Regions from separate parts of the Homo sapiens genome. Here regions 2, 3 and 4 are each reported to be linked to region 1. The links are microRNA targets in miRTarBase. Many come from high-throughput screens and were not tested one by one. Region 1 holds a microRNA gene; each other region holds the end of a gene's coding sequence.
The links. Region 1 holds the annotated microRNA hsa-miR-204-5p (UUCCCUUUGUCAUCCUAUGCCU, at 3,306-3,327, shown strand). A microRNA usually pairs through its seed, bases 2 to 8, with sites in the 3' UTR of a target mRNA and lowers its output. Matches are read on the target gene's strand: a 7mer-m8 pairs with bases 2 to 8, a 7mer-A1 pairs with bases 2 to 7 and ends in A, and an 8mer does both.

Region 1 (7,737 bases):
GAGGACATAATGATTTTATTCTTTTTTATGGCTGCATAGTATTCCCTGGTGTATATGTATCACATTTTCTTTATCCAATCCACCACTGATGAGCACCCGGGTTGATTCCATGTCTTTGCTATTGTGAATAGTACAAAGCAGTAGATGTTAAGTGCCCTTTAGTAATATAAAGTGCTACAGGAATTCAGACAATGAGCATCACTTAGCGCATTGCTTTCATCTTGCAGATAGGAAAGCCACTTGTAAAAAAAATCACAGTCACGTGTTCTGACTAAATTCATTACGTGAATTACCTTGGTAGAGCTTTTATCTGAACCTGAACTCTAAACTCCTTGTCTGCTCTTCTTTGCCCAGCCTTGTGTCACTACCTTAGTTTCACTTTTTATTCCTAATTTTCCCCCTTAAGACCATTTTTTTCTATTGTGTCCTGAAAGGTAATTAAGAAAATATTGAGACAATTTGCGGACATAACACATACCTGCTATCCAGAGATTTCCATTTTTAACCATAGTACCACTAATCTCACCCCACTTGACCTTCACTAAAGTATTACTTAATTTTTTTTCATTAGAGTTTGATAAATGGGGGAAAAAGAAGCTGAAAATACCAGCATGCCATTCACTCTGCAGGAAAGACATAGCTAAGCCAATGTTGTGCTTGGTTCCATTAACAAGTGCTTGTGCTAAATTTCCAGGAGGGTTTGTGGTGTTGTCTATTTGAAACTTTGCTGATAGTATTAAGCCAGCAGTCTAATTGCCATACACAGTGCTAGAATGGCCTGGGGAGTATGTGCTTAAAAGCCGAATTTATGTCCTCAGAAACACATTAATTAGGAACTCTCTGGAAAATGTACAGTAGTTGCTCTTGGTTGGCCATTTTACAAACTATTGAGAATCCAGAGGAACCAACCCTTAGAGGCTGTGCTTCAAGTGATATTGCTTTGCATTTTCCCCAGTGAGTACATTCTTATGAGAAGGCAGCTTTGCCAGGGTATGGGTGCTGACATATAACCAAGTGATGTTGATGTTTCATGAAAAGTGGGTGAGTTCCTACATGCCTCTCACCAGCCAGCTACCAGCTGCCAAACTCCTACTTCCCAATATTTGCCACAAGTGAGGCTGCTCTCAAAGTCTAGCTTGATCCTAGGAAGCTAGGGTCTAGAGATCTAACTTGAGGATTTGGGATCTTCCCTTAATGCTGTCTCTAAGGAAGGAACAAAATGAAGGCAGAGCAGAGCTGTTCATACTCATGGGGTCCTCCTCTGAGACCATCTGACCAAAGGCTAGCTTGCTTAGCAACTCCAGAAATATGATATTACCATTAAGTTTATCTCCTAGTTTGGGAAACAATAACCAAATTGGTAGGAAACCTGCCAATTATACTGAAATGGTTTTGATGACTTTTTTGGAAGATATGTAGACATAGTCATAGATGTAGATATATTTATATCTATACCTTGGCCAGAGAGAGAAAGAGGAATCAGTCCAATTAATAATATTATGCATGTTGAGTAACATGTTAGCTTTGTTTCAATTCCTCTTTTAAAAAGAAAAGAAAAGAAACTGGGTAGATTAGCCTCTAAATGGATAGTTCTTTTAAGTCAAAAGTAGCTAAACACTTGAAACTAGAACACTTATTTCTCTAGAAATCAGGAAAATGTTATTAAAAGGAGGGAAGGAAAGAATTCAATTCCTATCGTCTCCTGGAAAACACAGAATTGGAAGATTCATAATTATCATTATAATTAATATAACAACAACTAAGATTTCTTGAGGTTTTACTAAGTTCTAAGCATCAGTACAAGCACTTAACAGATATTAACTCATTTGACCCTTTCCACACCACAGAAGCTATCTAGGCTGGAAGAGAATAAAGAATGATACTTCCTCCAGCAAAGAGCTATGATTTTTAAGGACCTGTCCAGTTGAAGGAGTGATAAGACAAGATATAGCTGGTGCAGAAGGGCTGGATGATGCTCTACATAGGTTTCACTGTGCAACTTGAGTTGCCATCACGTATATAAATTTATGTAAATTGGGTAATCCATCTGCTTTAATAAAATGTGTATGCAACCACAGGGTGTAGAAATTTCAAAGATTTTATTTTTTGACAGGATGCCTGCCGTTTTTCTCTCTTGACTCCCGCTTGTTTTATTCATTTTGGGGTAGTTGCCAGTTAGACTCAGTTGGTAAGTATAATTAATGGAAAATGTGAATTTCTTCTTAAACTCCAAGAAATTAACCACAGAAGTCTTCATTTCCTTTATAATTTCCTAACAGTATCACTCCCTATGACTGTTGTTTTATCTCTATCTCTTCTGACATTCAACCACATCAGAAATTAGTTACTCCCTATTATTTATCATCCTAAAGATACCATATAGGACAGCTTGACGGCACTATTGGGATACTACTAGGAGGGAATGAGCATTTATTTAGGTTCCAAGCACCATGCTAGGCATTTTCATATATACTATCTCTTTTAATACTCACAAAAACCCTTCAAGATAGGGATTATTTTCTTCCTTTTATACAGTTGATGAAATGGCACCTCCAAGAGGTTAAGCCTTTGCCTTAAATCCAATTAGTGGCACAGCTGGGTGCAAACCTAGGCTGACATAATTCCAAAATACTTTCTCCTTTCATCCTACACATGGAAGCATTATCTCATTTTTTTAAAAAGGCTCCCCTAAAGTTTGGTTACCTTGGAGAGTTTGAGGGTCATTATTCCATTCAGCAACTATTTGAGCACCAACTCTGTGCCAAATATAGGTTGAGCATTGATTCAGTTGGAATGAGTCATCAAGCAAAACTTTGGGAAGAAGATGGTGGTTAGTTGCAAGATGGTGGAGAAACAATATTAGGAAGAAATACAACAGGGTGCTGGAGAGGAGCGTGGGGATGGAGGCAAGCAGAGGACCTCCTGATCATGTACCCATAGAACAGGGCGATGGAGAGGAGGGTGGGGTTGGAGGCAAGAAGAGGACCTCCTGATCGTGTATCCATAGGACAGGGTGATGGAGAGGAGGGTGGGGTTGGAGGCAAGCAGAGGGCCTCCTGATCATTTACCCACAGGACAGGGTGATGGAGAGGAGGGTGAGGGTGGAGGCAAGCAGAGGACCTCCTGATCATGTACCCATAGGACAGGGTGATGGAGAGGAGGGTGGGGGTGGAGGCAAGCAGAGGACCTCCTGATCATGTACCCATAGGACAGGGTGATGGAAAGGAGGGTGGGGGTGGAGGCAAGCAGAGGACTTCCTGATCGCGTACCCATGGCTACAGTCTTTCTTCATGTGACTCGTGGACTTCCCTTTGTCATCCTATGCCTGAGAATATATGAAGGAGGCTGGGAAGGCAAAGGGACGTTCAATTGTCATCACTGGCATCTTTTTTGATCATTGCACCATCATCAAATGCATTGGGATAACCATGACATGAAATTTTCCATCATTGGGCCCATAACTGTCCCATAAGAGAGATGAAAAACACTGTATGTTAAAGGTCATAGTAGAACTTCATCCAAGCAGCTCTGGAATTAGGAAGGAGTGAAATATACTCTCAAAGACTAATAGTTCTGGGTCCAAACCATGTGACTTGAAAAGGAAGCAAAGATTCCCCTGGACAGGTTACATATACTGTCATGCATTGCTTAACGATGGGGTTACTATATCCTCAGAAATGAATCATTAGGTGATTTTGTCATGAACATCATAGAGTGTACTTATACAAACCTAGAAGGTATAACCTACTACACACCTAGGCTATATAGTATAGCCTATTGCTTGTAGGCTACAAACCTGTATAGCATGTTACTATGTGGTAGTGAATACTGTAGGCAACTGTAACACGATGGTAAGTATTTGTGTATCTAAACATAGAAAAGACACAATAAAAACATAGTATAAAAGATACAAATAGTACACCTTAATAGGGCACTTACCATGAATGGTGCTTGCAGGACTGGAAGTTGCTCTGGGTGAGTCACTGAGTGAGTGCTAGAATATTTTTGTATACTACTGTAAACTTTATAAACACTGTATAATTAGGCTATACTAAATTTATTTTTTAAATTTTATTTCTTCAAAACTAAATTAACCTTAGCTGACTGTAACTTTTTTACTTTGTAAACTTTTTAACGTTTTAAAACTTTTAGACTATTTTGCAATAATACTTAGCTTAAAACATAAGCACATTATGCAGCTATACAAAAATATTTTCTTCATTTGCTTATTCTATGAGCTTTTTTCTGTCTTTAAAATTTTTTATCTTTGTATTTTTTAAACTTTTTTCTTAAAAATGAAGACACAAACACACTCATTAAACTAGGCCTGCACAGGGTCAGAATCATCAAGATGTCACTAGGTGATAGGACTTTTTCAGCTCTATTACTACCTTATGGGACCACCATTGTATTTGTGGTCTGTCATTGACCAAAGTGTCATTATGCAACACATGACTGTATATCAAGAACATCTTATTTCCTTCTGTGGGTGCTACAATCTGTTCAGCCCAATCATGCAAACTTTCTACTGCCTCAAACAGTCAAGGGAAAGGCCTTCCAAAACACAAATACCAAATTGATGATCAGTTCACTTTAGACTGTAATGACATCATTTTTCAGGTGCTGTCAAGTAAACATGTTTAAAGCTTTCTCCGCCTTTTAGAGGGTCTTCCCTCTAAAGAATAATTTGTGAGGAATAAACAACACAATCTATATCCCTGCTTTTTCATTATATGAAACGACTTGACACAGTTGGCTGTGTAACTGAAATATTTGTCATGCTTGTTAATGAAAAGTTACTTTGTCAATAAAGGTAATAATGAAGCCAAAAAAATAACTTTGAGGGAACAGAGCAAATTTTAGCGAAACTGGTTTCTTGGTATTGACTTGTCATGTTTATCTCACCCATTTTCCTATTCAAGCTAAAGACCTCCCTTTTTTCAGCAAAGAGACTTTTCTACATTGGAATTAGTTGTTCAGGGACTGGGATAGTTCTTGTAAACAAGTAGGTCCCAACAGGAGAGCTGTCCACCATTCTAAGACTTCTTAGACACTTTTACATTCAGGGAAGAATTTTGAGCTCCCTTTTCAGATTAGAAAGATTTGGGTTGCCAATGTTTGACTGGCATTTTGGTCTCAAAGTCAGCAATGTTTACTGTTGTTGGTCAGATACAATAGGTTCCTAGCATAACATAGGAACCTGTTATCTTGATGGAACCCAATATCTTCCTTATTTCATTGCTAACTACCTTTCATATTTTTCATCTGTTTTTATAGCTTCTCCTAACATAACACCATGTAGATCGTATGTCCCATCCATTTCAAGATACTTACAGTTTCCCTTAAATGATATACCCTACTGGATGTGGTTTTGTCTCTTTCTGACATTTACTAAAATTTCATTCTCTTCTCACTCTAACTACCTGGCCAAAACCTAAATTCCTTCAAGTCTCAGATTAAAAATCTTCTCCTCTCTGTAATCTTACCACAACTCCCATCCCTAGTATTCCCTCCAGCTCATACCCTGGTATCCTCCTGGGCCCACATTCACCTCATCCTCCATGCTCTTGCTGTGCTCTATATCAGCCTCTCCCACATACAGCTCCTTTTGGTAGAATGGAGCCTTCATAGTCTCCCATCTGCCTTCACAGTCTCTCATCTTCTGTAGATTGTGAGATCCTATAGAGCACAGCCTGTGTCTTATTCATTGTGGTCATTCTGAAAACCTTGCATAGTGCCTAGCCTATGCAAGTAGGTGCTCAATAACTTGTTATTATAAGCATCACTGTTTGATTTCCCTGGCTTTATTTTTAGCTCTGATTTTCAACCTGACACAAAGATGTAATAGAAGCGACTAGATACTAAAAAGCTATAAAAAAGGACAAATCATAAAGCAATAATGACATAGAAAGACTCAGGATAAATAAATAGCAACATGTACAAGCAAAGACCATCATGCATACTTCCAATTCATGGGCATAAAAGCATTTAGTCTGAGAAAGTTGACTGTGTTCCTGTTGAATTATGATTGTTGTAAATCATTTATATCTTATGAATTTAGAGAGTCTAATGATACATATTTTACAGCAGCCAGTGCACCGTGGCCTCAGTATTTCCATTTCCATGGAAAAAGAAATAACTATTGATTTTCCTCCATTTATTCAAAATGATAATTGCCCATGGTTGCTTTTCAGTCCAGATCAGGATCATTCCATTTAGTAGAAGTGCATGGCTAACTTTAGAAAGTTAGACACACATAAAATTAATGGGAAAACTTATGCTGACCGAGCAGTTTTCTGCCATGATCAACAGTTTTATAGTGAGATATATTTAGGGAAGATAAGGTGTCTCATTCCCTGGGGATCTTAAAGAAAAGTGAGCTGAGATTTTAATTTGCTTGAGATAATCATCTTAAAACCAGGGACTTTATCATAGGACCCTTCAAAGTCCCTTCTTAGGATTTATAATTATTTGTCTCTTCAAATTATTATTTAGATCATGTCAAGTCATTGAAACTAATGGATGTAAAACTGAAGAATCATTCATATAGTCTTGGGAAATGACTATAAATAGTGCTCCCAGATGTCACTAATAAAGTTGTCATAGCTGTTAACAGAATAAAAACTTTTTTCTTTTTATTTTATTTTATTTTATTTTATTTTATTTTTGAGACGGAGTCTAGCTCTGTCACCCAGGCTGGAGTGCAGTGGCATGATCTCAGCTCACTGCAACCCCCGCCTCCCGTGTTCCAGCGATTCTTCTGCCTCAGCCTCCCGAGTAGCTGGGCTATAGGCGTGCACCACCAAGCCCAGCTAATTCTTGTATTTGTAGTAGAGACTGGGTTTCACCATATTGGCCAGGCTGGTCTCAAACTCCTTACCTTGTGATCCACCTGCCTCATCCTCCGAAAGTGCTGGGATTACAGGCGTGAGCCACCGTCCCGGCCAAAAACTTGTTAACCTTGAACCCCTTAAGATCCCAGCTCAGGATCATGAGCCCCTGAGGCAAATGAGGAAAACAGAGATTTTATGCCCTAAAATGGCCAAATAAGGAACAGTTGATTTTTTTTTCTTTTTTGGCACCCATAGCTGAAACAAACAGCACTTCTCCTCATGAACAGGCTGTTCTCCTTCTGTGTTGGAGGCCAGGTTTCAAAGCTGCGTAATGAGTTTCACGTGCTGCAGCCCAGCAGGCAAACATTCAAGTCCTAAATCGCAGGCAGAAGAATGAAGAACTCTCATTGGCTAAGGAGCCTTGGCGTCGCTGGGTTCACATGGGGTACTGGGCAATTCCTGCTGGAACGAGGCAGGGTGAAAAAACAGGTGTGCCTGTGCTAAAACAGGGAGGAAGATTGAAGAGTCAGCTTTTCTGGTCATCAAACAAATCTGAGCTGAGCCCTTCCTCATTAGCAGCATTTCTTCCACCCAAAGGGAGAACAGAGGAAGTGCACACTGACTCTGGTGCATGTTAGAATTTATTATAAAATCCTGGGGGAGGCTGAGAAATAAGCAGCAATTAAACATGGTGTGCCTGCATGAAGAGTTTGGGGAGAAGTAGAAAGTTCACTTCATCTTTCTATTTCCATTCTTAGATTCTATTTTTGCACATGTAAAGCAGGATTTGTTTTCTTTTGTTTATTTTTTTCATTATTCAAGTAATAAGAACTCTTATAGGGTGTATGAATTATTGTTCATAAACTTAGGTATGTAGGAAATGTCACTTGGTAAACATTTTCTT
Region 2 (7,737 bases), not on the chromosome of region 1:
AGTTTTTTAACCTTTTGACAGGAAGGTGCTGATAATTCTGGAGACATGGAGTTACTTGCTGCATCTATGGGATGTCCTTTTCTTAAAATTTTAATTAGTTGTCTTAGTCCATAGGTCTACTTTTTTAACAGAAAAGGTTGAAATTAGTTTTATAAAGATTAGCTTATGAGATATACATATATATACACACACACACACACACACACATTTTTTTTTTCCTTTGAGATGGAATCTTGCCTGTCACCCAGGCTGGAGTACAATGGCGCAATCTTGGCTCACTGCAACCTCTGCCTCCCAGGTTCAGACGATTCTCCTGCCCCAGCTTCCGGAGTAGCTGGGATTACAGGCGCCCGCCACCATGCCCGGCTAATTTTTGTATTTTTAGTAGAGACAGGGTTTCACCATGTTGGCCAGGCTGGTCTCGAACTCCTGACCTCGTGATCCGCCCACCTTGGCCTCCCAAAGTGCTGGGATTACAGGCATGAGCCACCACGCCCGGCTGCTTAAGAGATATTTCTAGGCTCTATGAGGTCAACTACTGCATCTTGATTACCACTGTATCTCAAGCACCTGGCCCAGAGCCTGGTGCATAGATGATGCTTGTTAAATATTAGTAGAATAAATAAATTTATGTCTGAAATTTAATATCTGCAATAATATATTGTTGATTCTATCTCAAGAATAATACAAGCCAAACCTGTTGAACCAGCACTTAAAGTTCGTTTTAAAAAGCAATTGTGAACCAGGAGCAGTGGCGCATACCTGTAGTCCCAGCTACTTGGGAAGCTGAGACAGGAGGATTGCTTGAGCCCAGGAGTTCCAGGCTGTAGTGTGTTATGATTGTGCCTGTGAATAGCCACTCAACTCCAGCCTGGGCAACATAGCGAGACCTCATCTCTAAAGACAGATACAGTCAATGAATGGATGGACAGAATGATGGAACTGTGGTGAATATAGTTTAATAATAGTGTGTGGTACATATCAAAATTGCTAAGAGTAAATTTCAGATGTTCTCACCACAAAATATGATAAATATTTGAGATGACAGATGTTAGTTTTATTTAATTAGTCCACATTTTATTCATGAATCATAATGTCACTTTATACCCTATAAATATATATAATTATAAATTGTTGATTTACAATAAATTTTTTAAAAAATCAATTGCGTACATCACTGATATTCTTAAACCCTTATTTGGAAGCTTCCCATGAATAACTTAAAGTTGCTGTGTTCTCTAGATGTCCCCAGTGTCCTAGACAGCACCAGTTAAGAACAGTGAGTGTTTTTTAACTGGGACTTCTTCCTGACCCTGAATTTTACTTGACTTAGTTTTTCCTCTTTCTCTCTTCTAATTCACAGAGCAGTAAAGAAGCCCTTTCAGAGGTGAACGCCACGGGAGTGGCCATGCTTTTCTCTGCCGGGACATTTCTTTATGTTGCCACAGTACATGTCCTCCCTGAGGTGGGCGGAATAGGGCACAGCCACAAGCCCGATGCCACGGGAGGGAGAGGCCTCAGCCGCCTGGAAGTGGCAGCCCTGGTTCTGGGTTGCCTCATCCCTCTCATCCTGTCAGTAGGACACCAGCATTAAATGTTCAAGGTCCAGCCTTGGTCCAGGGCCGTTTGCCATCCAGTGAGAACAGCCGGCACGTGACAGCTACTCACTTCCTCAGTCTCTTGTCTCACCTTGCGCATCTCTACATGTATTCCTAGAGTCCAGAGGGGAGGTGAGGTTAAAACCTGAGTAATGGAAAAGCTTTTAGAGTAGAAACACATTTACGTTGCAGTTAGCTATAGACATCCCATTGTGTTATCTTTTAAAAGGCCCTTGACATTTTGCGTTTTAATATTTCTCTTAACCCTATTCTCAGGGAAGATGGAATTTAGTTTTAAGGAAAAGAGGAGAACTTCATACTCACAATGAAATAGTGATTATGAAAATACAGTGTTCTGTAATTAAGCTATGTCTCTTTCTTCTTAGTTTAGAGGCTCTGCTACTTTATCCATTGATTTTTAACATGGTTCCCACCATGTAAGACTGGTGCTTTAGCATCTATGCCACATGCGTTGATGGAAGGTCATAGCACCCACTCACTTAGATGCTAAAGGTGATTCTAGTTAATCTGGGATTAGGGTCAGGAAAATGATAGCAAGACACATTGAAAGCTCTCTTTATACTCAAAAGAGATATCCATTGAAAAGGGATGTCTAGAGGGATTTAAACAGCTCCTTTGGCACGTGCCTCTCTGAATCCAGCCTGCCATTCCATCAAATGGAGCAGGAGAGGTGGGAGGAGCTTCTAAAGAGGTGACTGGTATTTTGTAGCATTCCTTGTCAAGTTCTCCTTTGCAGAATACCTGTCTCCACATTCCTAGAGAGGAGCCAAGTTCTAGTAGTTTCAGTTCTAGGCTTTCCTTCAAGAACAGTCAGATCACAAAGTGTCTTTGGAAATTAAGGGATATTAAATTTTAAGTGATTTTTGGATGGTTATTGATATCTTTGTAGTAGCTTTTTTTAAAAGACTACCAAAATGTATGGTTGTCCTTTTTTTTTGTTTTTTTTTTTTTTAATTATTTCTCTTAGCAGATCAGCAATCCCTCTAGGGACCTAAATACTAGGTCAGCTTTGGCGACACTGTGTCTTCTCACATAACCACCTGTAGCAAGATGGATCATAAATGAGAAGTGTTTGCCTATTGATTTAAAGCTTATTGGAATCATGTCTCTTGTCTCTTCGTCTTTTCTTTGCTTTTCTTCTAACTTTTCCCTCTAGCCTCTCCTCGCCACAATTTGCTGCTTACTGCTGGTGTTAATATTTGTGTGGGATGAATTCTTATCAGGACAACCACTTCTCGAACTGTAATAATGAAGATAATAATATCTTTATTCTTTATCCCCCTTCAAAGAAATTACCTTTGTGTCAAATGCCGCTTTGTTGAGCCCTTAAAATACCACCTCCTCATGTGTAAATTGACACAATCACTAATCTGGTAATTTAAACAATTGAGATAGCAAAAGTGTTTAACAGACTAGGATAATTTTTTTTTCATATTTGCCAAAATTTTTGTAAACCCTGTCTTGTCAAATAAGTGTATAATATTGTATTATTAATTTATTTTTACTTTCTATACCATTTCAAAACACATTACACTAAGGGGGAACCAAGACTAGTTTCTTCAGGGCAGTGGACGTAGTAGTTTGTAAAAACGTTTTCTATGACGCATAAGCTAGCATGCCTATGATTTATTTCCTTCATGAATTTGTCACTGGATCAGCAGCTGTGGAAATAAAGCTTGTGAGCCCTCTGCTGGCCACAGTGAGGAAAGTAGCACAAATAGGATACAGTTGTATGTAGTCATTGGCAACAATTGCATACAATTTTACTACCAAGAGAAGGTATAGTATGGAAAGTCCAAATGACTTCCTTGATTGGATGTTAACAGCTGACTGGTGTGAGACTTGAGGTTTCATCTAGTCCTTCAAAACTATATGGTTGCCTAGATTCTCTCTGGAAACTGACTTTGTCAAATAAATAGCAGATTGTAGTGTCTGGTTTGGTTTGGACAGTAGTGCTTTCTATCATATTGTTGTGTGCAATGGTAATTTGTTCTACTGGCCAAAGCCTCTTTCAGCAGTGCCTTGCCATCATGCTTAAAAGTTTGGCTAGTATATCTTGCTGGATGGAGCCTTGAACTCCGGCAAGGATTGAACCATCTGACTTCCAAATTTGCCTTCCCCTCTGGACCTCACTATTAACAAGCAAACCTTTCAGGGCCCTCTTAGCTCTCAGAAGCTATGTATGGGCTTTCCCAGATTTTAAAGCTGCTGCCTCGAGAACTACTCATTTCTCTCCTGGTCAGCAGACAGAAATAGCCATACTAATCTCATAGGGCTCAAATGCATCTTCAGGCAGCAGGGAACCAAGCAGCGTGGCACAGGCCTTCTTGACTGGAGGAAGAGCTTGCTGGCATGGTGGGCAGTATTCCAGGAGAGGCCATGTCCGTGTTCACTTCTTGGCACATTTCAGTTCCGTTTTCCTCTTGTTTAAAACTGCCTCTTTAGATGTGGATGCCTTAATGCTGTAACACATTTGAAAACATTGGCAATACTTAAGTTGCTGCCATGATTACAGATGGAATTATTGGCTACCAAAGAGACGCAATTGATGATGAGAAGCATGATTCTTGCTTCCATATAACCAAAGTTAATCTTAATTGCAATTTGACTCCGTTTCCTTGGTAGGGATAGACTTTCTTCAGATTCCAAGTGCTCTCTTAAATGGCAAATTAAGTTAAAGAATACTACTGCTCCATTCCCCTCACTTATTCTCCAGTTAATTGCTTGTCAGTTCCATTTCAAGAAAGCAGTGATGTTCCAGGTTTGATTCAGTTTTCCTGTGCACACTATTGCCAAATTTTTTTTTAGCAAAGATTCTGCACTGGAACGTAGACAGTTGGAAACAGTACTACCTACCTAGAGGTTATGTGTTTTCTCTTTCTCCCCGCTTTCACCTCTTTCTTTCCCAATTCAAAACAGCCAAGTGAGCCCTGTTCTGGTATTTTGAATCATTAGAGAAAAGAAAGGGAGTGGCTGTTTTGAGTTGTCCTTTCTTTGCAGAAAGGAGAAAATGTGATTGTGTTTTTTTTTTACCAGCCTACTTCTAAGTGTCACTGCCTGGTTTTTCTCTTTTTCAAGGATTAGAACTAAGAGGACACACCAGCATCGGAGTGTATTAAGCCCCTGAAACACATGGTAGCTAGGGACTGAACACAGGAACCGTATGACAGCAGCACAAACCCCCAAAGGATGTTCCTGCCTTGTGGGCCCCTGAGCCCCTTGGGAGACTGAGAATCATGACCAGATTCATCCAGAACTGCTGCAGTGTTAAGTGAAAATCCTCTGTAGTTGTTCTGCAGAGGAACCTTCCTTCCATTAGAAAATTTCTGCTCAATACAGAATGGTCCACATCACCCAAAGTGCACTGTTGGAGATGCTGTGAAATTAAAACCTCTTTGTACCTGAGACATCTAGATTCACCTCAGGAGGCCTGAAGGAAATGTGTAACTTGTGGGAAAGAACTAGACAACCATTTAGGAATTCTCTAGATATACTCAGCCTAACCCAGTGGCTTAACACAAGGAGATTGGCTTTGATCTTTTTTTCTTGTGGCATCTTCCAGCAAGTTAGAAGTCTCATGGGATAAGACTGCAGTTCCCCTGGTTCAATAGCTGGAACAGTGATTTTAAATGTCCCTTTTTCTGGATCCCTTGTAAACATGAAATCATTCCATGGATGGCTGCCTTATAATTTTGTCTCTTTCCACTTTAATTGTGAATGGTTAAAAAAATGCTGTTTTCTGATATTAAATTTTTATTAGTGCATACCTTAATCTGAGTGGCTCATTACTTATCCTTTTGGCAGTTTGTTTGATGACCAGAATTGACCTGTATTTGAACATCAGAAAAGAGAATGAAAAGTTGTGATGGATGGTAGAAAGATGTACCTACCACAGGCACATCCTTTAGGGAAGGGAGGGAGAAAGGAGAGAGGGGAAATTAAGGACTTGATAGACCAATCTGCCCTGAAAGACACAAATGCATTGATAATTGTTTTTGCCTTGCTGTTGTTAGCAAATATTATTTACGAAGGTAGCTCTCTCTACTCTCAGAAAAGAGAAAGAGGCAACAGATCCAAACCACAGTGGATTCATTTCATAGGGCAGAGTTGTTATATGAGTAGATAGATGCTATGAACAACTGACCCTGGAAATTAAAGAGATTTGATTAGAAACGTGACGTGTGAATTTGATAAATGTTTTTCTCCCTCTGTGGACTTATGGTTAGTCATTAGATTTCATTAAATACTACTGGCCCACTTTGTGCTGGTTTTCTATATGTATAGTTACATGTATAGCTAGTTACAAAGATTGTGCTCAGGGCAGGCATGGTGGCTCACGCTTGTAATCCCAGCACTTTGGGAGGCCGAAGTGGGTAGATCACCTGAGGTCAGGAGTTCGAGACCACCCTGGCCAACATGGTGAAACCCCGTCTCTACTCAAAATAGAAAAATTAGCCAGGTGTGGTAGGGGGGTACCTGTAAATCCCAGCTACTCGGGAGGCTTCCCTGAGATCAAAACACACACACACCTGGGCTTAGCCAAAATAGCCACCAATCCTTTTCTGTTTGGTGTCATTTTTATTTTATTTTTTCCTGCTCACATGATCTGTTTTTTGTTTGTTTGTTTTTTGAGACAGAGTCTTGCTCTGTAGCCCAGGCTGGAGTGCAGTGGTGTGATCTCAGCTCACTGCAAGCTCCACCTCCCAGGTTCACGCCATTCTTCTGCCTCAGCCTCCCGAGTAGCTGGGACTACAGGTGCCCACCACCACGCCCAGCTAATTTTTTGTATTTTTAGTAGAGACGGGGTTTCATTGTGTTAGCCAGGATGATCTTGATCTCCTGACCTCATGATCCGCCCTCCTCAGCCTCCCAAAGTGCTGGGATTACAGGCGAGAGCCACCACGCCCGGCCTGATCTGTTTTTTAATCTAGGTGCTGGTTACAGGGTTATAGCAGGTGAAAAAGCAGTACACATGATTTGTGCTTTTTACCTTATGTCATAGCTCAATAAAAAGTCTTTAAAAGTCAGTGTCACCAGGTGTGATGGTTCATGTCTGTAATCTCAGCCACTTTGAGTGGCTGAGGTGGGAGGATTGCTTGAGCCCAGGAGTTTGAGACCAGCTTGGGCAACACAGTGAGACCCCCATCTCTACAAAAAATTAAAAAAAAAAAATTAGCTGGGGCCAGGCACGGTGGCTCACGCCTGTAATCCCAGCACTTTGGGAGGCCGAGGTGGGTGGGTCGCGAGGTCAGGAGATTGAGACCATCCTGGCTAATATGGTGAAACCCCGTCTCTACTAAAAATACAAAAAATTAGCTGGGCGTGGTGGCGGGCGCCTGTAGTCCCAGCTGCTCGGGAGACTGAGGCAGGAGAATGTCGCGAACCCGGGAGGCAGAGTTTGCAGTGAACCGAGATCACGCCGCTGCACTCCAGCCTGGGTGACAGAGCGAGACTCTGTCTCAAAAAAAAAAAAAAAAAAAAAAGCTGGATATAGTGACATGCACCTGTGGTCCCAGCTACTTGGGAAGCTGAGGTGGGAGGATTGCTTGACCCCAGGAGGTCAAGGCTGCAGTGAACTGTGATCACGCCATTTCACTCCAGCCTGGGCAACAGAGCAAGACTCTGTCTCAAAAAATTCACTTAAAAAAAAGGAAGAATTCTGTTCTAAATTAAGAGAGTCTGAAGAGATGAAATAATCAATTCCAGTGATTAACCTGGATTGGAGGTTCCTTTTTGATTGAACCAGATCAGAAATTTGAAAGTTCAAAAAACATGTTGGGGATGACAGCTGCACAATTCTGTGAACCTACCAAAAGCTATTGAATTGTACACTTAAAAAATGGGAACTCAACATTAAGGGCACATTCCTCCACAAAACTGCTCTCCAGACACCAGCAGCAAGTTCAGGAATTACCAGGTCATCCTTTCTTCTGACTAGCTGGCTGCAAATTTGGAGTTTCCCACAGCCACTCTCTGGTCAGTAATTTGCTAAAACAACTCACAGAACTCCAGAAAAAACTATGTTATGATTGCAGTTCTATTATAGCAAAAAGGACAGACCAGAAACAGAAGAAGAGGTGCCTGGGGCAAAGTCTGAGAGAGTCCCAAATGTGAAGCT
Region 3 (7,737 bases), not on the chromosome of region 1:
TTCATGTGAGGTTTTACTTTTTCTTAGGGAACACAGCCCTGCTGGCGGCTAACCTGCTGTTTGAGATGCTATGTGCTCTCCCCAAAGTGACAACCGTCTGAGTCTTGTGCTCTTCAAGACAAAACAGATTGCGTCGCTGACAAGTTCTCAAGAAGAACTTATGAGTAAGCAGTCTGAGAACTAAAGAGTTTATGCCAAGAAAACTTTCTGCTGAAAGTGTCATTGCTGGCTGTGAAGTCGGGATAATCAGTAGAATTCTCACCCAAACAGCAACATTTCTAAGGAACTTGGATTAATTGGGGGAAAAAAAAAGGAGTACTTGTACTGCTTTGATTTTTTTTCCTTTGATGAAAGATGGAGGATAAAGGGGAAGTGAGGAGAATTTCTTTCAAGATTATCTAAACATTAGAAACATGACATTTAAAAAAACTATGAAATAATACTGTATAAGCATTCCATATTTCTATATCTTCCTTTTAAACATTTTTTTTTTTGAGATAGAGTTTTGCTTGTCACCCAGGCTGGAGTGCAATGGCATGATCTCGGTTCATTGCAACCTCCGCCTCCCGAGTTCAATCGATTCTCCTGCCTCAGCCTCCTGAGTACCTGGGATTACAGGTGCCTGCCACCACGCCTGGCTAATTTTTGTATTTTTAGTAGAGACAGGGTTTCACCACATTGGCCAGGCTGGTCTTGAACTCCTGACCTAAGGTGATCCGCCCGCCTCAGCCTCCTTAAAGTGCTGGGATTACAGGCATGAGCCACCGCACCCAGCCGCTTTTTAAAATTTTGATGATCTGCTTCCTAGAGTATTGAGTATCTTCCTTTAAACTACAGCTCCTCCTCGGACGCTGCAGTGAGCTGAGATCGCACCACTGCACTCCAGCCTGGGTGCCAGAGCAAGACTCCATCTCAAAAAAAAAAAAAAAAAATACAGCTTCTCCTATGAGGTGCTTAGGGCTGCATCTTGGTTTTAGGACCACTGTGAACGTAAGTAAAAAGTATAAAGTAACACGGAGAGCCTAATGAAGAAACTTCTTGCTCAGAGGCCTAGAAGGGTACACAAAATGTCTTCTAAACTAGAAAACCTAAGGCTGGACACGGTGGCTCATGCCTGTAATCCCAGCACTTTGGGGGGCGGAGGTGGGCAGATCACTTGAGGTCAGGAGTTCGAGACCAGCCTGGCCAACATGGTGAAAACCCATCTCTACTGAAAATACAGAAGTTAGCTGGGCGTGGTGGCGCGTGCCTATAGTCCCAGCTACTCAGGAAGCTGAGGCAGGGGCATTGCTTGAACCCGGGAGGTGGAGGTTGCAGTGAGCTGAGGTCATGCCACTACACTCCAGCCTGGGTGACAGAGTGAGACTCCGTCTCCAAAAAAAAAAAAAAAAAAAAAAAAGCAGGCCGGACCCAGTGGCTCACGCCTGTAATCCCAGGCCTAGGCGGGAGGATCACCTGAGGTCAGGAGTTCAAGACCAGCCTGGCCAACATGGTGAAACCCCGTCTCTACTAAAAAACAAAACAAAACAAAACAAAACAAAAAAACCCCAGAAAACAAAACAAAACTGGAAAATGTCAGCTGGGCTTTTTTTTTTTTTTTTTTTTCTGAGATGGAGTCTCGCTCTGTCCCCCAGGCTGGAGTGCAGTGGCCCGATCTTAGCTCACTGCAATCTCCGCCTCCTGGGTTCAAGCAATTCTGCTGCCTCAGCCTCCTGAGTAGCTAGAATTACAGTCATGCGTCACCACGCCCGGCTAATTTTTGTATTTTTAGTAGAGACGGGGTTTCACCATGTTGGCCAGGCTGGCAGCTGGGCTCTTAATGTTACTTATTGTAACTCACTTCCTGTAAGACTCAATCTACTCTTCAAGTTGATGTACCCTCTATGACTGTAATTCCTGAAATCTGCAGTTATGCTGTGGTGATCTTAAGCGTGTCTTGAGTTCCATGCAAATTCAATTCTGTTGATAATGTGTCCATAATCAAATCATCATCTTGCAATGCAAGGGCTACCCCATAATTATCAGACATTAAAATAGTTTATTTCTTTTTCCATTCTGTAATCTTAAAATAACATCAGCTTCAGTGCCTGTTCACAATACAAAAAAAGTCAAAAAACAAAAACAACACCCAAAACATAAAAAAGAAACAATTTGCCAAATAAGTTATTTGTTCCTAAGAGTATCAAAAGTGCAAAATATTCACCTTCTTTTCAGATCTCTCCCAAGCATAATTATCCTCCTTGACAAACTGAACAGACAGATTCAGCAGCTGCCACACTGCACTTGTTTTTAGGGGACAATGTCAGACAGGTGGATGTGAACTACAGTTCCTCTGTAAAGATGTTTGGCATCAGCTTTTAAAGAATTCTAGTTAACAAAACAGGTCTGAGTATGTGCTTCCAATCTCTATTCCCAAACAAAGGAAATCACTAAAAAAACAGATCACACTTCTTTTTATAACAGAAAAATATTTATGTAATGATGGCAGCTGCAAATTGATTGGGATGTTAATAAATAAAAAGGAACAAGTATCAACAAGCTGCAAATGAGGAAGAAACCAACCTACCTGAAAACTACAACCAAATTCTCATGGCTAATAAGTGATGGCAGTGAGACCATGGCCCCTAATGGAAGTTAGGGCAGCCTCACCCACTGAAATGTTGTTTAGTTGGAGCTGATAGCCTCAGTGTTAGATAAAAATTGTGCAACACCTGAGCAACAAATTTTTTTTTTTTTTTGGAAATTGGCATGTATTCTGCAAAGACTTGTTTTAGGCCAGTTTTACCCCATCTGCTAAACGCAATGCATAGTCTGTATCAACCAGAAGAACCCATCTCTAAAAACATCAATGTTGATAGTCAAAGACCACTGTGTTAGAACCAAAATCAGGTCTTGTATGATTACATACATCAGACAGAGCAATGGTGGCACAGGCTGAGCATGACAATGGCTCATATGTTTGACGCAAAAGTAAACAAATTCATGGATGCATTCAGGAGGAATGCCTTGCATGGACAAGGGTAAAGTTCAATTTAAAATAAAAGCTCCCTAATATTCTCATAGGGCACCAGCTCTAAACCGGTCTGTAGAAGAGCTTTTGGGCTGAAACATCTGCCAGGAACATTGCCAATCCCATCACTACCTTCATTTCCTAGTGCAAATGGAAGGTGCAGCTGTTTGAAGGTGCTTTTTAAAAGATCAAAAGATGACTTGAAGAGATAAAAATGTTTAAAAATGAACAAATCTGGCATGGTGGCTCATATTGATAATCCCAGCACTTTGGGAGGCCAAGGTGGAAGGACTGCTTGAGGCCAGGAGTTTGGGACCAGCCTGGGCAACATAGCAAGACCTCGTCTCTATTAAAAAAAATATAAATAAATACACTTGGAGAGTTTTTGGTTTTCAGAAATTAAAGTCAGGAATTTCATTAGTACAGAAATTAAAAATAAAAACCTACTACCAAACCAAAAGACCACTCATATAAGCAATCTGGCCATAAAATACCTAGAAAGTAATATTGAGGACTGATGTATCAAGGAGCCAAATGAATTCCTTGACCATTTCTAGTTGGACCAGGTGCCATGAGATACAGCATTCAGAGGAAGTGTCCATTTTTAGAGGATCATATGGAAGAATGAAGCCTGGCAGTGATTTATTTTTTAATAAAGCTACAGACTCCATGAAAACTACAGGAATTCCTGGCCTTAAATAATTTATTACTTACCAATGTAGCTCAAGATTTAAATTATTCAGGATCCAAGTGGCTTAGTTTAAAGCATTAAGATTAAAGAAATACTAACTTAGCCGGGAGTGGTGGCTCACGCCTGTAATCCCAGCAGCACTTTGGGAGGCTGAGGCAGGCAGATCACCTGAGGTCAGGAGTTCATGACCAGCCTGATCAACATGGAGAAATCCCGTCTCTACTAAAAATACAAAATTAGCCGGGCTAATTACATGGTGGCACATGCCTGTAATCCTAGCTACTCAGGAGGCTGAGGCAGGAGAATCACTTGAACCTGGGATGTGGAGGTTGCGGTGAACCGAGATCGCACCATTTCACTCCAGCCTGGGCAACAAGAGTGAAACTCTGTCTCAACAACTAAAAAAAAAAAAAAAAAAAGAAATACTTAGTAAATGTCCCATCACTGATTTTCACCCTTCACAAAGCCACCAAAGGCACCTTGCTTTGACATTTGAACGGACCACTCTTTGAAGCTGTCCAAACTCAAACTCAGAACCACTGGTCATTCTGCCCTGAAAAATAAAAGGTATGCTCTCTAACTGGCTGGTATGAGGCACCCTGGGGTCCACTATACCTGGAGCTCAGCACGCTCAGGTGCTGATGGCCAGTCTGACCCCAATACTGGTGAAGCAGCTCTAAGTTAAGAGTGAAAACAATGAAGATGAGACATCAAAATACAGCCCAGAAGTGGAAAGTAAGCCTTTTGCAAAATGGGAGTCTAGAACAAATCTTGGCTCACTTCCTGCAAAAGATGACTTGAAGAGACAGCACTTTTAGGGTAACAGTGTTCAAAATACAATTGTTGAGAAATTTTAAGTTCCTTGATACAAAGACATGTTTGGTATTTTACTAAAGAGACACTATTGAAGAGATTCCTTAAGCCTGACTCATAGCAGGTGGGAATAATTTCTCTTCAGTTTAACATCTACTGGCTTTATAGCAGCTTATCTCTACGTTCAGAGAACAAGATTACAAGTTATGGCTCCTAATATCCATACCCTAAAATCGACAGAGGCAGAAAGGCATCTGAAGACATACATGTCAACGGCTCAAAGTCATCACAGTACTTCTCGCTGTGCAGACCCCTCCCCTGGCTACCAGCAGCGCTGGGGCGGCGGATGGGATGCTCACAGCGTGTCTCAAGGCTGCATCGCTTCAGCCACTGCTCAGCCTCCCTTTCCTTTTCTTGAGAACTCACATGCAGAACTCCCGTTTATTCCTTTCCTTTTCAACCTGTGGCCAACAAACTGTTGTTGGGGGATACCCCCAAAATATACATTTAGCCACTTACTCCCAGAACAACCAGTAAACGTGAGATTGCTTGGAAAGGGGCCTTTTTCCAGATGCGGGGCTAGAAGCTGCCGTGGGTTGTTCAGAGTTAGGAGCATGCGCCATGGCAGCAGCACAGCAGGGCCGGGATTGGGGAAGGGGCCAATGACCTGGCCTGCACGACAGGCTCATGAGGGTCCGCCAGATGCCGCTTGCAGGGTGGAGCCCTGTGCTTCTCCAAGACACAGGACAGGAGGGTGGGGTGAGCATGGGACAAGGACAAGAAAGGAAGAGGGGATGAGCAGTCTATTTTCAATGGTGTGGCATTCAGTGGGGAAAAATAACACCCAGAGGAAAAGATTTTCATCTAGGCGATTCAAACTGGTGGTGTTTTTCATTCCTAGGTTAGAACAGGACAAAGGAAAGATTCTTCTAGCCATGGTTCTAGAAGAGCAATCTAAAATCTATACTCTGTTCATTGTGGTAGTTTGAGTCCTGAAAATACCTGTTCACAGGGGCATGTTAAAAAGTCTGAAGAGTTCAAATCTCTTTGGAAAATCCTCTCAGTCTAGTTCAGGCCATGATGGGATATAAAACCTCTGTAAGGAGCCCTCCAGCAGGCGTTCCATCCATAAAGAGAGCTTGCTCAACTTTCCTTTGATGGGCCTGGATCCAAGGCCACAGGAAGGTTTCCCTCGAGATTCACCCAGGTAGAGGGAAGAGTCAACATCACTGCACGACCCTATGGCTTCCTCCTCTTCGACTGTCTTTTGGGGCTTGAAGAGGCAGAAGTATTTCTTGTGGCCATTCAGAGCCAGTACATAACCAGTGTAGTCACGCTCCATGAAATGCTTATCATATTGGTTTGGGATTGGAGCTGCATCTTGAGCAAATTCTAGTAAGTATTCTAGCCATTCTCTGTGTTTATCTAGACTCAGGAAGGAGAAGTGTAGGCAGCTGCTCCTGTAGGAAGAAGAGAATTGAGGACTCAGGGCATTTCCTGACACATTTAATTGCTGAGAAAATAAATACCCCAGTGAGACTTAAAATAATAGGAAAACGCTTTGTGTTGGATGGGGCCTGAACACAGAGAAAAAGAAGGCCTTCTGTGGGAGCCAGTGCCTCTCCAGCAGCTGCGACACTTCAATCACCCATTCCCCCATCGCTTGCTCGGTGGAACTTAACATTGCTCTTCTGGAAAATACACAAGGGCTAGAGAACAGTAACTGAAAGGGCTCAGGGAATAACACTGAGTTCAAGCTTTTCTGTTCAGAACCAACAAAACACGAAGTGAAGTGGGAAAAGAGGTCCCTGTCGCAATGGCTCAGATGTCTGGATTGGAAAGGTCACAGCCAGCATCTTGCTGTATGGATGAAGCCCCACAAGACCAAAGAGAAAAGCGTGCAATTTCAGTGTGCCTGCCTCTCTCTCTCTCACACACATACATACATGCACACACACACATGCTTACCCAGTAAATGTGTAGACCTCCAAAGCAAATTTCTGTAGTAGGCTGGTCTTGGTAGAATTCGACAGGATGAGGACCACATTCATGTGGCCTGGCCTCAGACGTACCAAGTTACTGGTGTATGTTACATCTGTGAGTTCAGTTACCTCCACAAAGCCTTTTTTAGGAATCTTGCTGTGGAGAAATATTGAGGAGTTAAGATGCTGTCAGGATAGGGGGAAAGCCGTTACTTTGAAAAGAAACAGCTGAAAGAAAATGCTATGTTCTAACCAGACTAGGTATGTTATTCACTATTCTTGAGTCTAACACATTGGTAGGATGGGGATGGCCTGACTTGGTAATCCCTGACCTACAAACAGCCTTTCTGTGCTGCTTTTCTTTTTCTTTTTGAGATAGGTTCTTGCTCTGTTTTCCAGGCTTGAGTGCAGCGACATGATCATGGCTCACTGCAGCCTCGACCTCCTGGGCTCAAGTGATCCTCCTACCTCAGCCTCCCAAGTAGCTGGGACTACAGGTGCCTGCCACCACATCCAGCTAATTTTATAAGTTTTTTGTAGAGACAGGGTCTTGCCATGTTGCCTAAGCTAGTCTCAAACCCTGGGCTCAAGCAATCCTCCCACCTAGGCCTCCTAAAAGTCTTGGGATTACAGGCGTGAGCCACTGTGCCCTGCTTGATGCTGCTTTTCAGGTGCAGAAGTTGCTCTAGGACAGAATGAAGAAGACAACTATCATTCAGTCTATGTTCTTTGTCTCGGAGACCCTGGCCTCTTGCTGCTGGGTGTGTGTGCGCACAAGACTGGTTACGTTCATTGACATTTACAGGGATAAACCACGTCCTGCTTCTGGCTCACCTAACACTTGCCTGATAGGCTTCTTTCCTTCTGCCTTCATTATGAAATCTAAGGCATCTAAACACCTACAGGGTCTTAGTAAACACAAATCACAGTGACTTTTCCCTGTAGCCACAGTTTACATGGGAGGAGGTGCATGAGAGTTCTTCTCTACACTCTATGTTCCAATGCTGCGTTATCAGATGACAGGATCTGGGGGGCAGGTGCCGGGGAGGTGAGTCTGGTGTTTTGTTAGAGAAACCTGCTGTTTTCTTTGGTGAAGCTTGGCTCAGTTTTCCCAGTCTTCTCTTGGGCTTCCTCTTTTTCTGGAGGGCTTGACTCTCGCTCATCATTAGAGTCGCTAAAGTAAGAAAAAAGGAGTTTTACAAAAAAAGTGTCAACACCAACCATGGTGGTGCACCGAGAAG
Region 4 (7,737 bases), not on the chromosome of region 1:
AATTACAGGCACCCGCCACCATGCCCAGCTAATTTTTTTTGTTTTGTTTTGTTTTGTTTTGTTTTGCGACGGAGTTTCACTCTTGTTGTCCAGGCTGGAGTGCAATGGCGCGATCTCGGCTCACCGCAAACTCCACCTCCCAGGTTCAATCGATTCTCCTGCCTCAGCCTCCCTAGTAGCTTGGATTACAGGCATGTGCCACTGCGCCTGGCTAATTTTGTATTTTTAGTAGAGATGGGGTTTCTCCATGTTGGTCAGGCTGGTCTCGAACTCCCGACCTCAGGTGATCCGCCCACCTTGGCCTCCCAAAGTGCTGGGATTACAGGCATGAGCCACCACGCCCGGCCTCATGACCAGCTAATTTTTGTATTTTTATTAGAGACAGGGTATTGCCATGTTAGGCAGGCTGGTCTCGAACTCCTGACCTCAAGTGATCCACCCGCCTCGGCCTCCCAAAATGCTGGGATTACAGCCATGGGCCACCGCACCTGGCCCAAAAAACGTTTTGTAAATAAAAATTAGCCGGGCATGGTGGCACATCCCTGTAGTCCTAGCTACTCAGGAGGCTGAGGCAGGAGGATTGCTTAAGCCAAGGAGTTTGAGGCTGCAATGAGCCATGATCATGCCACTGCACTCCAGCCTGGGTGACAGGGCAAGAGTCTCTCTCTAAAAAAAAATTATAGTAATAAAATTTAAAGATCAGAATTTATAAAAACATCTGGATTGGCGGCATCTTTTGAAAAAATCAGAAGCTCTAGCAAATATTCTATTTAAGGTTTTTGGTTGTATACAACAGAAATCAACCCTGGTTAACTTAAGCAGAAAAGGAAGGATATGAAATAACTTACAGAAAGCTGAAGAACAGGCTTAGAGGAGTAAGAACCAAGGGAGGCTAAGCAGCCAGAGCTACAACCCTAGTCATGCCACATGAGTTTTCTGGGAGAAAAACCCTGTGCTGTCCCCCCTAGACAATGGCCCTGTCACCTCTGCTGCAGGATGCAGGATCCTGCATGGACTACAGTGATTCCAATATTCCCTTAATTCTTTGCACTTAATGAAAAGGATACAAAGTCGCAGGTGAACAATCTTTTTTTTTTTGAGATGGAGTTTTGCTCTTGTTGCCCAGGCTGGAGTGCAACGGCACAATCTTGGCTCACTGCAACCTCCCCCTCCCAGATTCAAGTGATTCTCCTGCCTCAGCCTCCCGAGTAGCTGGGATTACAGGCATGCATGACCACGCCCGGCTAATTTTGTATTTTTAGTAGAGACAGGGTTTCTCCATGTTGGTCAGGCTGGTCTCGAACTTCCAACCTCAAGTGATCCGCCCACCTCGGCCTCCCAAAGTGTTGGGATTACAGGCATGAGCCACCGTGCCCTGCCGCAGGTGAATAATCTTAGTCATACGTTGGCACTCTGACTGCCTGAGAGCGGTCCCAGGTGTGTCTTCCCCTCCTGCACCTTCTATAATTGGAAGCGACTCCACTTCCCACTTATGTTGACATTCTCCCCAAATAGGAAAACCATATGAATGCTGAGCAGCTCCATATGACAAATGTTCCTCACAGCAATAACCCATGGAGCTGAGTTGCACCTTCCCCTGTTACATAAGGCAGTTTTCCGGGATATCCCAATCCCACTTGTCTCCCAAAATTAAAATGAAATTCCAGTTGCCATTTCTAATTATGCCCTCCTATTGTAAGATATTTTTTATACCAAAATGTAATGGTAATAAAATATGTCCACAGGCCAGGCGTGGTGGCTCATGCTTGTAATCTCAGCACTTTGGGAGGCCAAGGCGGGTGGATCACTTGAGGTCGGGAGTTCAAGACCAACCTGGCCAACATTGTGAAACCCTGTCTCTACTAAAAATACAAAAATTAGCCAAGCATGGCAGTGGGCACTTGCAGTCCCAGCTACTTGGGAGGCTGAAGCAGAAAAATTGCTGGAACCCATGAGGTCGAGGTTGCAGTGAGCCAAGATCACACCATCGCACTCCAGCCTGGGCGACAAGAGAGAAACTCCGTCTCAACAGAAAAAAAAAAAAAGAAGAAGAAGGAAATCCTGTCATTTACAACAAGATGGATGAACCTGGATGGCATTATGTTAAGTGAAATAAACCAGGCACAGAAAGACAAATACTGCATGATCTCACTTACATGTAGAATCTAATTTAGTCAAACACATAGAAGCAAAGAGTATTATGGTGTTTGCCAGGGGCTGGGGGAGGATGTGACTGAGGAGATATTGGTCAAAGACTATAAGATTGCCGGGTGTGGTGGCTCATGCCTGTAATCCCAACACTTTGGGAGGCTGAGGTGGGTGGATCACCTGAGGTCAGAGGTTCAAGACCAGCCTGACCAAGATGGTGAAACCCCGTCTCTACTAAAAATACAAAAAATCAGCCGGGCATGGAGGCACACACCTGTAATCCCAGCTACTCGGGAGGCTGAGGCAGGAGAATCGCTTGAACCCAGGAGGCAGAGATTGCAGTGACCTAAGATCTCACCATTGCACTCCAGCCTGGGCAATGAAAGTGAAACTCGGTCTCAAAAAAAAAAAAAAAATGCCGGACGCGGTGGCTCACACCTGTAATCCCAGCACTTTGGGAGGCCGAGGCAGGTGGATCATGAGGTCAGGAGATCGAGACTATCCTGGTGAACACGGTGAAACCCCGTCTCTACTAAAAACACAAAAAAATTAGCCAGGCGTGGTGGTGGGCACCTGTAGTCCCAGCTACTCGGGAGGCTGAGGCAGGAGAATGGCGTGAGGTTGCAGTGAGCCGAGATCGCGCCACTGCACTCCAGCCTGGGAGACAGCGAGACTCCATCTCAAAAAAAAAAAAAAAAAAAAAAAAACTATAAGATTTTAATTAGGAGGAATGAGTTCAAGAGACCTATTGTACAACATGGTGACTATAGTCAATAACAATGTATTGCATTTTGAAAAACGTTGAGATAGTAGGTTTTAAGTGTTCTCACCACAAAAAATAGTATGTGAGGGAATGCATACATTAATTAGTTCAACTCAGCCATTCCACAATGTAAACCTATTTCAAAACATCATGTTGTATATGATAAAATAATTTTTAAAAGTTTTTTAAAATTTTTTAAATAATTTTGACAAATTATTCAGCTAAGCTGCTTTTACATTCCTGGCCTTCAGATATGATGTGAGATAATAAATATTTATTATTTTAAGCCACTAAATGTGGGGTAATTTGTTATCCAGCAATAAATAGCTAATACACCAGATCTTTATCAAAAGGGAAAAATTATATACAGACTGTGAGAGTGGCCCCCTTTATTTATGTTACCCACCTAGCCCCTGTATGCATTTGAGTTTGTGACCCCTACAAAATCACTAAGTCAGTTTCTCTAATTACATTATACATACGTGTGTTTGTACCTAAGGCAGAGACCATGACATTCCTTTATTTGGTGTCCCTTCCTCCAGGATGACTAGTTCAGTAAGTCCCCTAGTAAATCCTTGTTCGCTACTGGGGAGAGGATTAAAGTGGGATACAGAGTAGAGATTTGTGGAATATCTGTTGTGCCTAATTTTCAAGCCCTTGTATTATGTTCCTTGCTCAGAATCTTTCCTTTGTTAGGAATCTTTCCTGGGTTAGGAATGCTACAATTGCTGATCAGGTGTGGTAAGAACAAGAATCTCAGACAGGGCTCATATTAAATAGAAGTCAGCTGGGCGTGGTGGCTCACACCTGTAATCCCAGCACTTTGGAGGCTGAGGCGGGCCGATCACCTGAGGCGGGCAGATCAGGATTCAAGACTAGCCAGACCAACATGGAGAAACCCCGTCTCTGCTAAAAATACAAAATTAGCCGGCATGGTGGTGCATGCCTGTAATCCCAGCTACTAGGGAGGCTGAGGCAGGAGAATCGCTTGAACCTGGGAGGCAGAGGTTGCGGTGAGCCAAGATGGTACCATTGCACTCTAGCCTGGGCAACAAGAGCATAACTCCGTCTCAATAAATAAATAAATAAATAAATAAATAAAGTCGATCATATACATTAGGTTGAACCATATAAAATTGCCACATTTAACTACTAACACAACATATATGGTTCAATCTGCAGTGGCGCGATCACGGCTCACTGCAACCTCCATCTTCCAGGTTCAAGCGATTCTCATGCCTCAGCCACCCAGGTAGCTGAGACTACAGGCATGCACCACCACACCCGGCTAATTTTTGTATCTTTAGTAGAGACGGAGTTTCACCATGTTGGCCAGGCTGGTCTCGAACTCCTGACCTCAAGTGATCCGCCCACCTAGTTTTCCCAAAGTGCTGGGATTACAGGCATGAGCCACCTCACGCGGCCCAACCTAATACATATATTTTTAACATACCTGATCCACTCACAATTTGTCCCTGTGAGAGGTGACAGCGTGCTGGCAGTCCTCACAGCCCTTGCTCTCGGCGCCTCCTCTGCCTGGGCTCCCACTTTGGCGGCACTTGAGGAGCCCTTCAGCCCACCGCTGCACTGTGGGAGCCCCTTTCCGGGCTGGCCAAGGCCGGAGTCGGCTCCCTCAGCTTGCAGGGAGGTGTGGAGGGAGAGGCGCGAGCGGGAACCCGGGCTGCGCGCGGCGCTTGCGGGCCAGCTGGAGTTCCGGGTGGGCGTGGGCTTGGCGGGCCCTGCACTCGGAGCAGCCGGCCGACCCTGCAGGCCCCGGGCAATGAGGGGCTTAGCACCCGGACCAGCGGCTGCGGAGGGTGTACTGAGTCCCCCAGCAGTGCCAGCCCACCGGCGCTGAGCTCCATTTCTCGCCGGGGCTTAGCTGCCTTCCCGCGGGGCAGTGCTCGGGACCTGCAGCCCGCCATGCCTGAGCCTCCCACCCCCTCCGTGGGCTCCTGTGCGACCCAAGCCTCCCTGACGAGCGCCAACCCCCTGCTCCACAGCGCCCAGTCCCATCGACCACCCAAGGGCTGAGGAGTGCGGGCGCACGGCGCGGGACTGGCAGGCAGCTCCACTTGCAGCCCCGGTGTGGGATCCACTGGGTGAAGCCAGCTGGGCTCCTGAGTCTGGTGGGGACTTGGAGAACCTTTATGTCTAGCTAAGGGATTGTAAATGCACCAATTGGCACTCTGTATCTAGCTCAAGGTTTGTAAACACACCGATCAGCACCCTGTGTCTAGCTCAGGGTTTGTGAATGCACCAATCAACACTCTGTATCTAGCTGCTCTGGTGGGGACGTGGAGAACCTTTGTGTCTAGCTCAGGGATTGTAAACGCACCAATCAGCGCCCTATCAAAACAGACCACTGGGCTCTACCAATCAGCAGGATGTATTGTGGTTTCATCTGGAGGGATAGACATGACCAAGATCAGCTATGGATGCTCTCCTAGGAGGCTGGCCTCTCTGGGCAACATGTCCAAAGCCTGATGGGCATTGCCAGCATTCCCCAAGCTAACTTTAAAACCCAAATATGCAACTTACCTTTTGGTCTTAGGACCTAACCCTAATGCTTTCCTTTGTTGCCATGTTTTATTCCTGCTGTTACATGGTGGAGGGTGTGGGAGGCTTGGGTGGAAAGCTATAGCAGCCTGGGGGGATGGTGGTAGTGGTGGTTTCCAGGGCACAGGCTCTATGCGCTCTGTCATCGGAGCTGGACACAGAGGGTGGGACTGCTGCCCAGGACACACACCTGGGCTGACCACTTGTGCTGTGGTGCTCCTTGTTTAACCTGCCTCTTATCTTTGAGCCATTTGGCTTTTGAATCCTTCACTATGCTTAAGCCAACAAGTTGGCAAGTGATATCTGTCTCCTAATCAGCTCTACCTCCTCCACCCACTAACTAGCAAATGTTGGGTCAGGGGTAACAAAGTAAAAAGAGGTTTAGCTCTCCAGAGGCGTTTGCCCATGTACAAGTATGTTCTGGTAGAGGTTGGGCAGGTTTAGGCACTAACGGGTGCCAAAAGGCTCCTGGGCAGGAAGAACTGGAAAACAAACTTGTTCTTTCTCCCTTCCTCTCCCTCCTCCTCTAGCTTGCCTCAACAACAGCCAGATATGAGAAAGAAGAGACGGACAATTTATTCCACATCACTCAAGCTCAATCAAGGCAGGGAGAAAGCAGAGGAGTGCAAAATCCTCCCTTTCTCATTCCTTGCAATGATGAGGACCAACCTATTCAAGGGCTGGGGGAGGATGAGGAGATGGGGTCAGATGAATGGACAGAACTTGGTGCCAGGAGTTCAGAAAAGATTACACATGTGTATCCTTCTGCTCAGGATCCAGGACTCCCTCCTGGGTGATGGGGGTGTCTGTGATCGTCTGTGCCCTTGGAGATTCTTCTACTGAGCCGAAACTGCTGCTGCAGGACACGGCACCACTGGGGTGGCTCAGAATCAGACTCCAGAAACTTTTATGGTTGAAGTAGCAAAGGATCGCTGGGAAAGGACAGGGACAGGGGAGAGGAAAGTTGTGACTGGGAGGTTAAGTGACAAGTAGGGTGAGACCAAAGGGAAGATAAGACCCTAAAAATCTAGCCCTGGGGATTGCCAGCCTCTTCCCTCCACACTTTCCCTGCCCTACCCTACCCATGTCGCTTCCTTCCCCCAGGGCCCTCTGGCCACTCACCGCAGGTGAAGTATAGGATAAGCACCAGCCAACCAATGAAATAGCTCCAGCCTATGGGGATGGATACATTCCTTTCCAACTCGAAGATCCAGATGTTAATGGGGAATAGCATGAGGGTGGAGAAGATGAAGGTGACTAGGAGACAGGAGGCAGAGGGTCTCATTGTCATACAAGAGTCCCACAGGAGGTTCTTCCTCATCTGCTAGGCTACAGCCACAAACCACATCACCACACACAGAGTGACTGGCCCTGAGGTTCCAGGAGTCAACCCCTGCATTTCTACCTCTCCTGTGACCAAGAAATGATGTAACTCGATTCTCGGTTCTGTTCTCCCACCACCCACAAAACCCTCATACCACCCCCAAAGAAGAGGGAGAAGTGCCCAGGAAGATGGGGGTTAGGAAAACAAAGGACCTTTCCAGAGCTAGGAGGCACCTTCACAGAAGCTCAAGATGGTCCCGAAGCCCACAAAGGGCAATTTTTGAACAGCGGGCAGGTAGGGCAGGTGCAACCAGATGGTGAGGACGAGGCCCAGCCCCAGGGTCAGGTTGAAGCTTAACTTAGCCACCTTAAACATGGGCTGATTGTCCACAGCTTAAAACTGCCTGGGGAAAATGACAAACAAACAAGATCAACTAAGGATTTACAAAAGATGAAACATAATCAAATGAGCAAATACAAGAAAATGTACCGCCAGGCGCGGTGACTCACGCCTGTAATCCTAGCACGTTGGGAGGCCGAGGCAGGTGGATCACAAGGTCAGGAGTTCAAGACCAGCCTGGCCAACATAGCGAAACCCCGTCTCTACTAAAAATACAAAAATTAGCTGGGCATGGTGGTGCATGCCTGTAGTCTCAGCTACTCCGGAGGCTGAGGCAGGAGAATCGCTTGAACCTGGGAAGCGGAGGTTGTGGTGAGCCACTGCACTCCAGCCTGGGCAACAGAGCGAGACGCCGCCTGCAAAAAACAAAAAACAAAAAAGACAGAAAGAAAATGTACAGACCCATTAATAATCAGAGAAATGCACATTTGAAATAAAAATGAAATATTGCTTTCACTTCTTAAACAATCCGAGATCCTTGATATGGATATTGTTTGATAACCTCAACCACATGCAAATGAATACCTCAACAGAAAAAATGTAC

Region 2: miRTarBase lists SLC39A9 as a target of hsa-miR-204-5p. Seed matches in the 3' UTR shown: 7mer-m8 at 2,202-2,208 and 7mer-m8 at 4,582-4,588.
Region 3: miRTarBase lists DNAJC16 as a target of hsa-miR-204-5p. Seed matches in the 3' UTR shown: 7mer-m8 at 4,915-4,921.
Region 4: the mRNA of ODF4 is a reported target of hsa-miR-204-5p. Seed matches in the 3' UTR shown: 7mer-m8 at 6,105-6,111.

What each region holds. Positions count from the first base shown.
Region 1 is chr9:70,805,621-70,813,357 of GRCh38, reverse strand. It overlaps MIR204 (microRNA 204), which reads left to right and starts at 3,274; the gene lies at 3,274-3,383. The region is part of intron 6 of TRPM3 (transient receptor potential cation channel subfamily M member 3); the gene reads left to right.
Region 2 is chr14:69,457,000-69,464,736 of GRCh38, forward strand. SLC39A9 (solute carrier family 39 member 9) reads left to right here. Exons shown (of 7, transcript NM_018375.5): 7 at 1,364-5,391. The coding sequence ends at 1,594. Among named protein-coding and RNA genes, the nearest start is that of PLEKHD1, 24 kb to the right of the region's middle. RefSeq lists a silencer at 3,289-3,338.
Region 3 is chr1:15,566,015-15,573,751 of GRCh38, reverse strand. It overlaps DNAJC16 (DnaJ heat shock protein family (Hsp40) member C16), which reads right to left. Exons shown (of 15, transcript NM_015291.4): 13 at 7,572-7,670; 14 at 6,483-6,653; 15 at 2,019-5,974. The coding sequence ends at 5,575. AGMAT (agmatinase (putative)) reads left to right here. Exons shown (of 7, transcript NM_024758.5): 7 at 28-2,053. The coding sequence ends at 101. Among named protein-coding and RNA genes, the nearest start is that of AGMAT, 15 kb to the left of the region's middle.
Region 4 is chr17:8,344,333-8,352,069 of GRCh38, reverse strand. ODF4 (outer dense fiber of sperm tails 4) reads right to left here. Exons shown (of 3, transcript NM_153007.5): 2 at 6,593-6,727; 3 at 6,024-6,402. The coding sequence ends at 6,218. Among named protein-coding and RNA genes, the nearest start is that of ODF4, 8.4 kb to the right of the region's middle.